2 separate regions of the Homo sapiens genome follow, and region 1 is linked to region 2. Evidence: fine-mapped expression QTL. A gene starts in region 2. The other region holds a variant in brackets. All regions are shown on one strand. Distances are between the middles of the regions. Region 1 overlaps USP35 (ubiquitin specific peptidase 35). Region 2 holds the start of USP35 (ubiquitin specific peptidase 35).

Region 1 (5,000 bases), 22 kb before region 2:
GGAGGCTCACGTGGGTAGTGGGACCCCCTCCCCCCACACCCGAAGCATCCTCCTCCCCCTCAGACTCAACTGGTCCCTGTACTCCTCCTTCAGCACACTTATTAACTGCATTAATGGGGTTTTCTAGATGATACAGAATCATGTCATTATCTCATCCCAGGAGCTTCTTAAGCTGTTAAGCAACTTCAGCAACTCTCAAGATGATACATACAAAAACCAATGTGCAAAAATTGCTAGCATTCCTATACACCAACAAGAAGCAGGGAGCCAAATCATGAACAAACTCCCATTCACAACTGCTACAAACAGAATAAAATACCTAGGAATACAGCTAACAAGGGAAGTGAAGGAGAGGACACAAATGGAAAAACATTCCATGCTCACAGATAGATAGGAAGACTCAATAGCATGAAAATGGCCATACTGCCCAATGTAATTAACAGATTCAATGCTATTCCCGTTAAACTACCATTCACATTCACAGAATTAGAAAAAACTATTTTAAAATTCATACGGAGCCAAAAAGTCCATATAGCCAAGACCATCCTAAGCAAAAAGAACAAAAGTGGAAGCCTAATGCCTACCTGACTTCAAACTATGCTGTTTTGCTTACTGTAGCCTTGTAGTATAGTACTGGTATAAAAACAGACACATAGACCAATGGAACAGAATAGAGAACTCACTCAGAAATAAGACTCCACACCTACAACCATCTTCAACAAACCTGACAAAAACAAGCAATGGGTAAAAGATTCCCTGTTTAATAAATGTTGCTGGAAGAACTGGCTAGCCATAGGCAGAATGTTGACATTCGACCCCCTCCTTATACCTTATACAAAAAATTCACTCGATGGATTAAAGACTTAAATGTAAAACCCAAAGGTATTAAACCCCTAGAAGAAAATCTAGGAAATACCATTCAGGACATAGGCATAGGCAAAGATTTAATGATGGAAACATCAAAAGCAATTGCAACAAAAGCAAACAATGACAAATGGGATCCACTTAAACTAAAGAGCTTATGCGGAGTACAAGGAACTATCATCAGAGTAGACACAACCTACAGAATGAAAAAAAATTTTTGCAAACTACCCATCTGACCTAAGTCCGATATCCAGAGTCTACAAGGAACTTAAATGTCCAAGAAAAAAACAACCCCATTAAAAAGTGGGCAAAGGACATGAACAGACACTTCTCAAAAGACATTCATTCATGTGGCCAACAAACGTACGAAAGAAAAATTCAACATCACTGACCATTAGAGAAATCAAAACCACAATGAGATACCATCTCACGCAAGCCAGAATGGTGATTATTAAAAAGTCAGGAAACAACATATGCTGGTGAGGTTGCAGAGAAATAGGAATACCTTTACACTGTTGGTGGGAGTGTAAATTAATTCAACCATCATGGAAGACAGTGTGGCAATTCCTCAAAGACCTAGAGGCAGAAATACCATTTGACCCAGCAATCCCATTACTGGCTATACACCCAAAGGAATATAAGTCATTCTATTATAAAGATACATGCACATGTATGTTCACTGCAGCACATTTCACAATAGCAAAGACATGGAATCAACCCAAATGCCCATCAATGATAGACTGGATAAAGAAAATGTGGCACATATACACCACAGAATACTATGCATCCATAAAAAGGAACGAGATCATGTCCTCTGCAGGGACATGGACGGAGCTGGAAGCCGTTATCCTCAGCAAATTAACGCAGGAACAGAAAACCAAATACCGCATGCTCTTACTCATAAGTGGGAGCTGAACAATGAGAATACATGGACACCTGGTGGGGGTGGGAGGGGACCAACACCCACTAGGGCCTGTTGGGGGGTGGCGGGGGAGGGCGAGCTTCAGGAAGAATAGCTAACAGATACAGGGTTTAATACTTAGGTGATGGGTTGATCTGTGCAGCAAACCACCATGGCACACGTTTAAGTAACAAATCTGCACATTCTACACATGTACCCTGGAACTTAAAAAATAAACTGCGTCATTCATTACTCAGTGTCTGTTACTTTGAAGTAAGGGGTTAGGTCTGTCTGGGCCACCAGTATATACCCAGCACTGAGCAACAGATGAATGGGATTTACAAAAAAGACTTAGAGGGGAAATGACTTATCTAAGCCAGTAGTGGGACTGGACTCCCTCCACCAAGAGATCAGATCAAAGGCCCCACGGCTCAGCTCACCTGTAGGTAAAGGATGTTGTCTTTGGAAATGGCTTCCATCAAGTCCTTGTGCAGGGTGGGCTCTGTCCGGACTCTAGAAGAGCCCAACTCAGCCTCGGGCCCCTCCCTGGGCCGCTGCCGGTAAAACAGCACATAGGCTGTGTCCTTAGGGAAGAAGGAGGTGACGTTGCTGACAGATTCGAAGGAAGAGAAGGACACCCGAGTGTCATTGAACAGGTACCACTGGTTCTCGGGCTCTGGCCTATCGGCAGTTCCCAGAGAAGCGGCAGGGCGGGCAGCGCCCTCACGGGCATAGCAGTAGTAGTGACCACTCTCCGAAGACACTCCAGAGTGCACCACCACACTGCAGAGGTCATAGGCCTGGCCACGGCCACCAGCCAGTGGCAGGCGGAGCAGCAGGGGGATGGAGACGTCATCCAGGATCTTGCGGCGCCGCATGGTGCGCAGGTCGAAAGAGAAGCGCAGCAGTGTGAGGATGAGGTAGCACGGCCCTTGGCTCAGCTCCACCACCTTCTCGGCATCCTGCAGGGAGGCACACGACTC[G/A]CAGTAGTAGCGGTTTTCTGCTGTCAGCTTCTCGGGGGACAGGAAGTAGTTAACCAGGTCCAGGACGGAGCGGGAGCCCTCAGAGCCACATGTCCGCTCCCCGGAGGGGATGGCAGCATCCGGGTGGGTCCCCGCTCCCAGGCTGTCTTCTTCCTTTTCCTGCTCAGCCTCCTTTTCTGTCTCCTTCTCCACCTTCTCTTCTTCCTCTTCCACCTCCTCCTCTTTCTCCCTCTCTCCTTCCCCTCTGGTGCTTTCCTCCTCCTCCCCCACTTCTTCCTTCTCCGTTCTCTCCTCCTTCCCTTCTTCCTCCCTCTCTATCCTTTCCTCCTGACTGCTCTGCCCACCAGCTTCCTTGGAGTCCAGGCCTTCGATGTACAGGCTGGTGGGGGGGGTGTCCTCTGTGATGCAGTGTTTCCTTTGCCTCCGAGGACCCACCCTGCCTGGCCCCTGTGCACTGGTTGGTGGGGGCAACTCCCGGGCTGTGATGTCTTCTGTGGGGCGCATCACAGAGCCCAGGCGGCGGCGGCGACAGCGCTCAGGAGGAGGGAAGGCGAGAGAGAGGTCCGTGAAGGCCTCCTCCCGGGAGGAGACGTTGAGGCAGCAGAGACAGCAGATCCGAGTCACTATCTTGCCTCCAAACATTTTTTCCACAGAGGTTGAACTTGGGGCCGGGGGCTCCTCGGGCGGAGAGGGCGAGCTGGACTGCTTGAGTTTCTGGCAGATCCTTGTGCCCGTTTTCTCCTCTTCGTGCAGCCTGGGGCAGAGAGCACAGAGTCACTACATGTACATGCGGGTCCCCTTCCGGGGCACTCAGCTTATCCATGCCCATTTACCTTCCCCAACAGCCACACATTGAGACGCACACAAACACACATGCACACACCAAACACCCACACATCCACGTACATGCTCACAACAGCACGCTTGCTACACTCACCCACACGCCCTACATAAAGACTTGCTGGAGCTATGTAATGTGCTCCCATGGCAGTGACAAAGATGCACGGCCCGGTGTGCAGACATACACAATGACCTCCCAGAGATCACTTCCACTCAGCATCTACCAAACCTCCCTCACACTCAGTCCCTGCCCTTCCAGCACACCCCTTCTCCACGCCCTCCACATGTTGGAGGCAGCACACTTATTCCCTGGACGCTGCAACACAGCTCAGAGGTACTGGGCTTGCCCCCAAGGACCCTCTAGACCTGGAGTCTTCGCGTAGCCCTGGCCCCCTTACCGATCCAGCAGGTACTTCAGATACTCCGAGCAGTCCTGCTGGGTGCCAGGGCTGAACCAGGGCGTCCAGGATGCGGAGAGGAAGTTCTCTGGGGAAATGGCAGGCCGCTAGGACAAGGCAGGCGAAAGGCATGGTCAGGAGCAGGAGGCCACTCACCAGCCAGCTCTGCACAGGTTAGGCCTGAGGGTCTACCTCATTCCCTCGGCCTCAAACTTCCTGGCCTCCTCCATGAGGTCCTCCCCGCTTTTCTATTGTCCCTGACCCAACCCAGCCCACATGTCCACGCCTCTGAGCAGGGCTGAGCAGGGCATTGGGCTCAGAGAAATGAACGAGGCTCTAGGAATCTTCTCTTCCTGGCACACCTCAAACATTCTCTCCCTGCCTCCACTCACTGCCATTCTCTCCCGTCAAGATGAGTCCCAGATACAGCGCTGCCTCTTCCATGTCATCTTCCCAACCCTCCCTCACTGACCTTTCCCTTCCCTCCATGAGCCAGGGAGGGATTACTCATTTCTGTGCCCCCACACAGAGCTTTGCATAATCCCTGGCCAAGGGCTTTAGGCTCCATGAGGGCAGAGATGGTGTTTGTTCTGTTCACCTCTGTACCCTCAACAGCTCTCAGGCTGCCTGGCCATGTGGGTACTCAAAAATAACAGCAGAATGAAGCAACATGCTGTGGTGTGACTGTGTCCTCCAAAAAGCATGTGTTGGAAACATAATCCCCAGTGCAGCAGTGTTAAGAGATGGGACCTTCAAGAGAGGATGAGGTCCTGAGCACTCTGCCCTCAGGAATGTATTATTTCCTTATCACAGGCCGTTTGCTTTCCCCAGCAGCCACAAATGGAGACAGGAGCAGGTTCCTGATAAAAGGGTGAGTTCATCCCGCTTTCCCTTCTCTCATGCATGCTCTCACACCCTGTGATGCCTTCTACCCACATTATAATGCAGCAAGAAGGCCGTCACCAGACACAGCCCCTCGATCTTGGGCCTCCCAGCTTCCAAAACTGAGAAATA
Region 2 (5,512 bases):
TACCCCTCGCCCTACTGGCATGACAGCCTGAGGGGCGTCCCAGCAACACCAGCACACTCCAAGGCACGCAGTGAGCACTCAGGAAAATCCCAATCCCTCTGCCAAAAGGCCCAGATCCTTTCACCTGTTCCTCTCGGATGACCCTCAACATTTCTGCCGAGTGTTGACTGATCTCTGCTCCTGCACAGTTGAGCCTGACTTATCTCCATCACCCCAAAGCACCCTGTGTGTGTGTGTGTATGTGTGTGTACACAACTCCTATGCTCAGCCCCACTGCCACGCCCTGGGCCCCCGCTCAAGCTTCATCATCCCTCCTTGGTCTCTCCAGATGCAGCATCGTCAGATGGAGCTTATTACACGGTAAGCACCATTCCGTCCATGCCCCTGCTCAGAACTCTCAACACTCTCCAGCCCCTTGGACCCAGAATAAGGTCCAAACTCCTGAGCCGGACATGCAAGCCCTTTCTGTGACACTCAGCTGATGTGGGGCAGGGGTGGAGATGAACTCAAGCAACATTGTTCAGTGGAGACTCTGCAGACATTGGAGCAGGGGGCTTTTTCCTGACTGCTACTTTGCACAATGTCCCCTCTACTGAAAAAGGGCTTTTCCCTCTTCTCTCCTGGAAAATTCTGACTCACCCTTCAATGCCCAGCTCACATGCCCTCTCCTCTGGGAAGCCTTTCCTTTTCCCTCCACAATTCAAGTGTCTAAAGTTCTGGCCTCCAAGGCCCTCTTAGCTATTCTCATCCCTCTGCAGCATAACTGGAATCCATGTCTCTGTCTCCCACCAGGCTGGGACCTCCCTTGGCAGAGGTCCAATCCCCGTCTCTGAGCCCAGTGCCCAGTACAGAACCAAGGACTGAGGTGTCCGTGAAGGTGCGTCAAGCAACTCATGAGAGACATGTGACAGCAAGATGAGAGAAAACCAAAGATGTAACCACAAAAGTACCTTCCAGAAACTGGCCTAACCTTTGGTCCAGTCACCACCCCCTCCTTTGCCCAGGCCTGGTCTTGCATATCAAAAACCCTGAAAATCTTAAACATCAGTCAAGAAAGCCCCTACAGAGGTCACTGGACTGGACTGAGGCTTTAGCCATTCTAGAAATTGTTCAAACAACCAAAGCAAAAGAAAAAGCACAAAACAAAAACAAAACAAAACAAAACAAAAATCTGTTCCTGGTTAGCCTTCAGGTCAAAAGCTCACAGAATCTCCTAGGACCTGAGAAGAAGGCTTCATGGTGTTACTCAACCTCTCCCTGCTCCAGGTCAGAGCAGCCCCTCCCAGCCTCTGCTCAGCACCTAAGAGCTGAGGAGCACATTTCCTCCCCTCTCTGACCCTCGAAGCCAGCCTCCCTCCTTTGACTCCCCTGGGAGCCAGAGCTTCCTTGGGGGTACCAGGCTGCCCCTCCCGACACCAGGTGGTGCCCTCCATCTCTGGCCCCTCAGGTGTCTGAATGGCAGCATCTCTCTAGGTATTTTTTAACTGAACTTCTACCCAAGGCAACCCTGGGAAGAAGTGCTTCACCCTACTCCGGGAGGCCCATGTCTGGGCCACCAAACTGTCTCCTGGAAAGAAAAAGAAAAAAGGGTTTCACTGGTAAAAAGCAGCTGCTCTTCCTCAAAGGATAAGGAGGAGAGAGAAGGGAAGAAAGCAGGAGCAGCTATTCCTCCTCAGGAACCCACCACACACACCTATCCCTGCGGGGCCACCCCTCACAAACCTGTGAGGGCCGCACTCCACCCCAAGCTTTCTGGAAGGAAGGGCACCAAGCTGACACATCAGGGTCTCCGGTTTGCAAGGGCCAGGGCCGTAAGAGGGGGTTGGGGAGGGTATCCCAGGGCCCAGCACACTGAGAATAGGAAAAGCCCATTCCAAGCAATGGTGGCCTCGGGCCCCCCAGTTTGTGCCACCTCCCTCCCTCCAGTGCACCCGCGCCCAGCCCACGCTTGAGCTGGAGGGCCCCACGAAAAGCCAGCAAGCGAATGTACTAGGTACTGGGTGCGAATGCCCTCTTACCTGAAAGGGGAGGGAGCAGGATCACTTCGACATACAATTGATGAAGGGAGGGGATTAATGCCCAGAGAGGAATAGCTACTCGCCCAAGGTCACACAGTGAGGCCCAGGAGGCCCAGGATGCACCCAGATCTCCCGACTCCCAGCCCTGGGCTCGCAAGTCCAGGGTTCTCGAAAGGCCAGGGTGCAGACACCGCCCCCCAAAGACAGTCACACGCCCCCAACCCCCTTACCTCCCGGACCCCGGTGGGCCAGAGCCGGCTGCTGGGCGGGGCGCTCAGGCCGGGCAGGACGAGGCTGGGCCCGGCTAGGTCAGGGCTGGTCCTCTGCTCCCCCCAGGGTGGGGACGCCCTCAGCCAGGTCCCAGACGGAAGAGATGCTGCTTCCACTGCAAAATCCAGTCTTCCCACCCCGCCTGGCACAAGCCTCTATGTATCCAGGAAGCCCGACTCTGCGGCGCGGCCCCGGGGCTGCGGGATGAAGCATGGGGAGGGGCGAGGTGCGTGAAATGGGGCGGAGCCGGAGCGGGGGCCACCCCGCGAGCTGCCACTCTGACCGCGTCCCCTTTAAGGCCAGCCGGCCGGACACCGGCGGGGACGAGGCGGGGCGCAGAGCAACTCGCTGCAATGCCTCCTGGGAGATGGAGTTCGCTCTCGACGCGCCGAGCTGCGAGGAGCCCAGAGAGAACTACCAGTCCCGGAAGGCAGCGCACAGACCCCGGACCGCCACGCCCCTGGGCTGGGCTCCTACCCTCCGCCCCCCTCGCAAAGCTGCGCTGGCCGCTCGCGGAGGGAGAGGCTGCAGAGCGAGGGCAGGAGGTGGGTGCGGCACGGCCGGGGTCGCGGGGCTCGGGGACTACCGGCGAGGGTACGTGGGCCCACTGAGCACCTGTCTTACCATGAGACTAATCTATCCCAGCCTCGCCATTCCCATCTGTGAAATGGGGATGGCATCGCCTGTGGTGCGGGGGAGGGGGCGCGTTTCGGAGCGAGGTGAGCCGAAGTGGGCAGAGCTCTTAGAGGGGCGGGGCTGTTGGGAGAGCAAGGGCGGATGGTGATAGTCGGAAAAGCCCGGATAATGAGGGTCGGGACTGTGGGAGGAGTCCTTGGTGGGTGGGGCAAGGAGAGGCGGGATCTCTAGGTGGGGGTGGGGCACTTGTCAGGTCGGAGTGGGGGCTGTAGGGCTGGGGAGTGGGTGCGGAACAAGCCGATGAGGCCAGCCTGGGTGAGATTGGGGAAGGAAGGGCGGAGACACAGATGACAGGGAACTTGCCCCGCTCTGGAGAGCCCTGGGCCGGCCGCGCTGTGGCGGCGTGGGCAAAAGCCTGTGATGCATAGAACACCTCCCTTTACTGACTGGAAATAAAGAGTCCATCCCCGAGTTCAGTGCGGCACACCAGTGATCTCATTGACCTCCCACGCCCTGAAAAGTAGAGGCGTCACTATAGCGGTTGACAGGTGAGGAATGTGAGGCTCAGAAAAGCGAAGGGACTTGCCTAAAACCACTCAGGACTCCTTACTTCAAAGACCTTGCTTTTCTCCCTGCACTCGGGGAGGCAGAGGTTTAGCTTGGCGTGGGAGGCAGGAAAGAAAAGTTTTGATGCCCCGACCTTCGCAAATTGTCTGGCAGGACCAGTCCCCCCAACCCTTCCGAATGACAGCCTGTAAGGCAGCCCTCCTATAGTACTGTGAGGATGAAATGAGATGGATTTGAAAGCACGGTGTTTATAAATTACTGTTTGGAGGAGACATAGGAAGAGAGCGGTTTGAAATGGGGTGCTGGTGCCGGAGGAAAAGCACAAGGTGAAGCGTGAGAGTGAGCCGAGAAGGTGAAGGAAAGTTCTGGAAGGGGCTGGGGGATGGTAGTGGTTGTTGGAGGTCTACGCCAGATGAAAGAATACCTTGCCGTGCCAGATTCCGTGGTCTCCTTCTTCCAGCCCACCTTTCTCTCCTCCTGCCTTTTGCGCAGCTCATTCTGGGGTCCCTGTGTCTAGGAAGCACCTTTTCTCTCCTCCCTATGGGTTGTGATGGTAATAGAGCAGCCTTCGGATTTCTTAGAGATATGGACTGGGCAAGACAGAATTATAGACGCAGCTCTTTGATGTGGGGTGGTCAGGAAGAGGAGGTGAAGAAAGGGTAGTCGTCCTAGGGGCTTCAAGGCAAAGAGTCCTTTCTCCGGTGGGGTAAGGTGGGGAAGTCTCCCACTTACTGGAAAACACAGTACTCACTCTGAGCATTGTCTTTTTTGAAATTTACCCAGCCACGTGCTGTCCATTCCCTTACGCAGTGGAAACTCTCCTTGCATTTACTCCCAAGTAATCACCTCGGCCTTGTCACATCCCTTTAGATTCCAGATTGAAAATTGAACAGAGCATTTCAAAATTAAAAAGTTTTGAAAATCCAGGTGGGGAAAATGGATCTGACTAAACAGGAGAGAAATTTCTTCCTCTTCCCCTATTCTACGTGCTTCTGTGGATATAGAAAGGGGCACCCCCAGCCCCAGCAAGGGAGCCAGGCATCCATCTACTTAAGTAAAGTTGGCTGTGGTAAGGGGTTAGACTAAAATTCTCCGCAGATGCAGAGGAGAAGGAATGAATTCCAGCTGAGAGACCTGGCCGATGCATGGGATTTGTCTTCAAGGTCCAGGCAGAGGGGATGGCAGATGCCAAATTGCAGAAGTCGAAGAGGGCCCAGTATGGTTGGTCTGTAAAGTAGGTATATAATAGTATCTACTTAATCTGTGAGATTGAAAGAGATTAACATGTATAGAGTGCCTAGCACGGTAGTAACTGCTCAATAAACGTTAGCCATTATTATTGCCGTTGTAGTGTTTGTTGTTGTTATGATCATCATCATCTGCCCAGGAACGTGCCCAGGGCTGCACAGCTAGTAAGTGGCAGGGGATGATTCAAATGCAAACCCAGGTAATGCCGAATACCATGCATGGTCTGCCCCTACCCCACACAGCCTCTCCAGTTCTTTTCTTTTTTTTTTTTTTTTTTTTTTTTTTTTTTTTTTTTGAGACAGGGTCTTACTCTGTTGCCCAAGCTGGAGTGCAGTGGCGTGATCTCGGCTTGCTGCAGCCTGACCTCCCAGGCTCAAGCGATCCTCCTACCTCAGCCTGTGCAGCTGGGACTGCAAGCACGTGTTACCATGCCCAGCTAATTTTTTTTTTTCTCTATAGAAACGAGGTCTCATTATGTTGTCCAGGTGGTCTCAAACTCCTGAACTCAAGCGATCCTCCCACCTGGGCCTTCCAAGTGCTGGGATTACAGGCATGAGCCACTGAGCCTGGCCTGTCTCCAGTTCTTTCTGCCCATCCTTGACATTTCTGAGGCCCAGGAGTGGCCTCTCTTTGTCAACATTCACAGTGAGTCATGACAGGAGTTTCTTTCCTGCCGAGTTACAGAGATTCTGGGTTCATGATGAGGCAGGAAAAACAAGGCCTGAACAGCCATCTTCTTCCAGGCAGAATCACAGCACAGAAGATAGGCAGAC

Evidence for each region. PIP is the estimated chance that this variant, and not a neighbour inherited with it, causes the effect. A credible set is the group of variants that fine-mapping cannot tell apart.
Region 1: its variant is the best candidate, but not a certain one, in a credible set for the expression of USP35 in whole blood (TOPMed, PIP 0.80).

What each region holds. Positions count from the first base shown.
Region 1 is chr11:78,207,950-78,212,949 of GRCh38, reverse strand. It overlaps USP35 (ubiquitin specific peptidase 35), which reads right to left. Exons shown (of 11, transcript NM_020798.4): 9 at 3,987-4,093; 10 at 2,206-3,502. Among named protein-coding and RNA genes, the nearest start is that of USP35, 22 kb to the right of the region's middle. RefSeq lists an enhancer at 1,965-2,591. The variant G/A (reference allele first, on the strand shown) is at 2,749.
Region 2 is chr11:78,185,894-78,191,405 of GRCh38, reverse strand. USP35 (ubiquitin specific peptidase 35) reads right to left here and starts at 2,487. Exons shown (of 11, transcript NM_020798.4): 1 at 2,249-2,487. KCTD21 (potassium channel tetramerization domain containing 21) reads left to right here and starts at 2,780. Exons shown (of 2, transcript NM_001029859.3): 1 at 2,780-2,833. RefSeq lists silencers at 2,134-2,293, 2,724-3,063.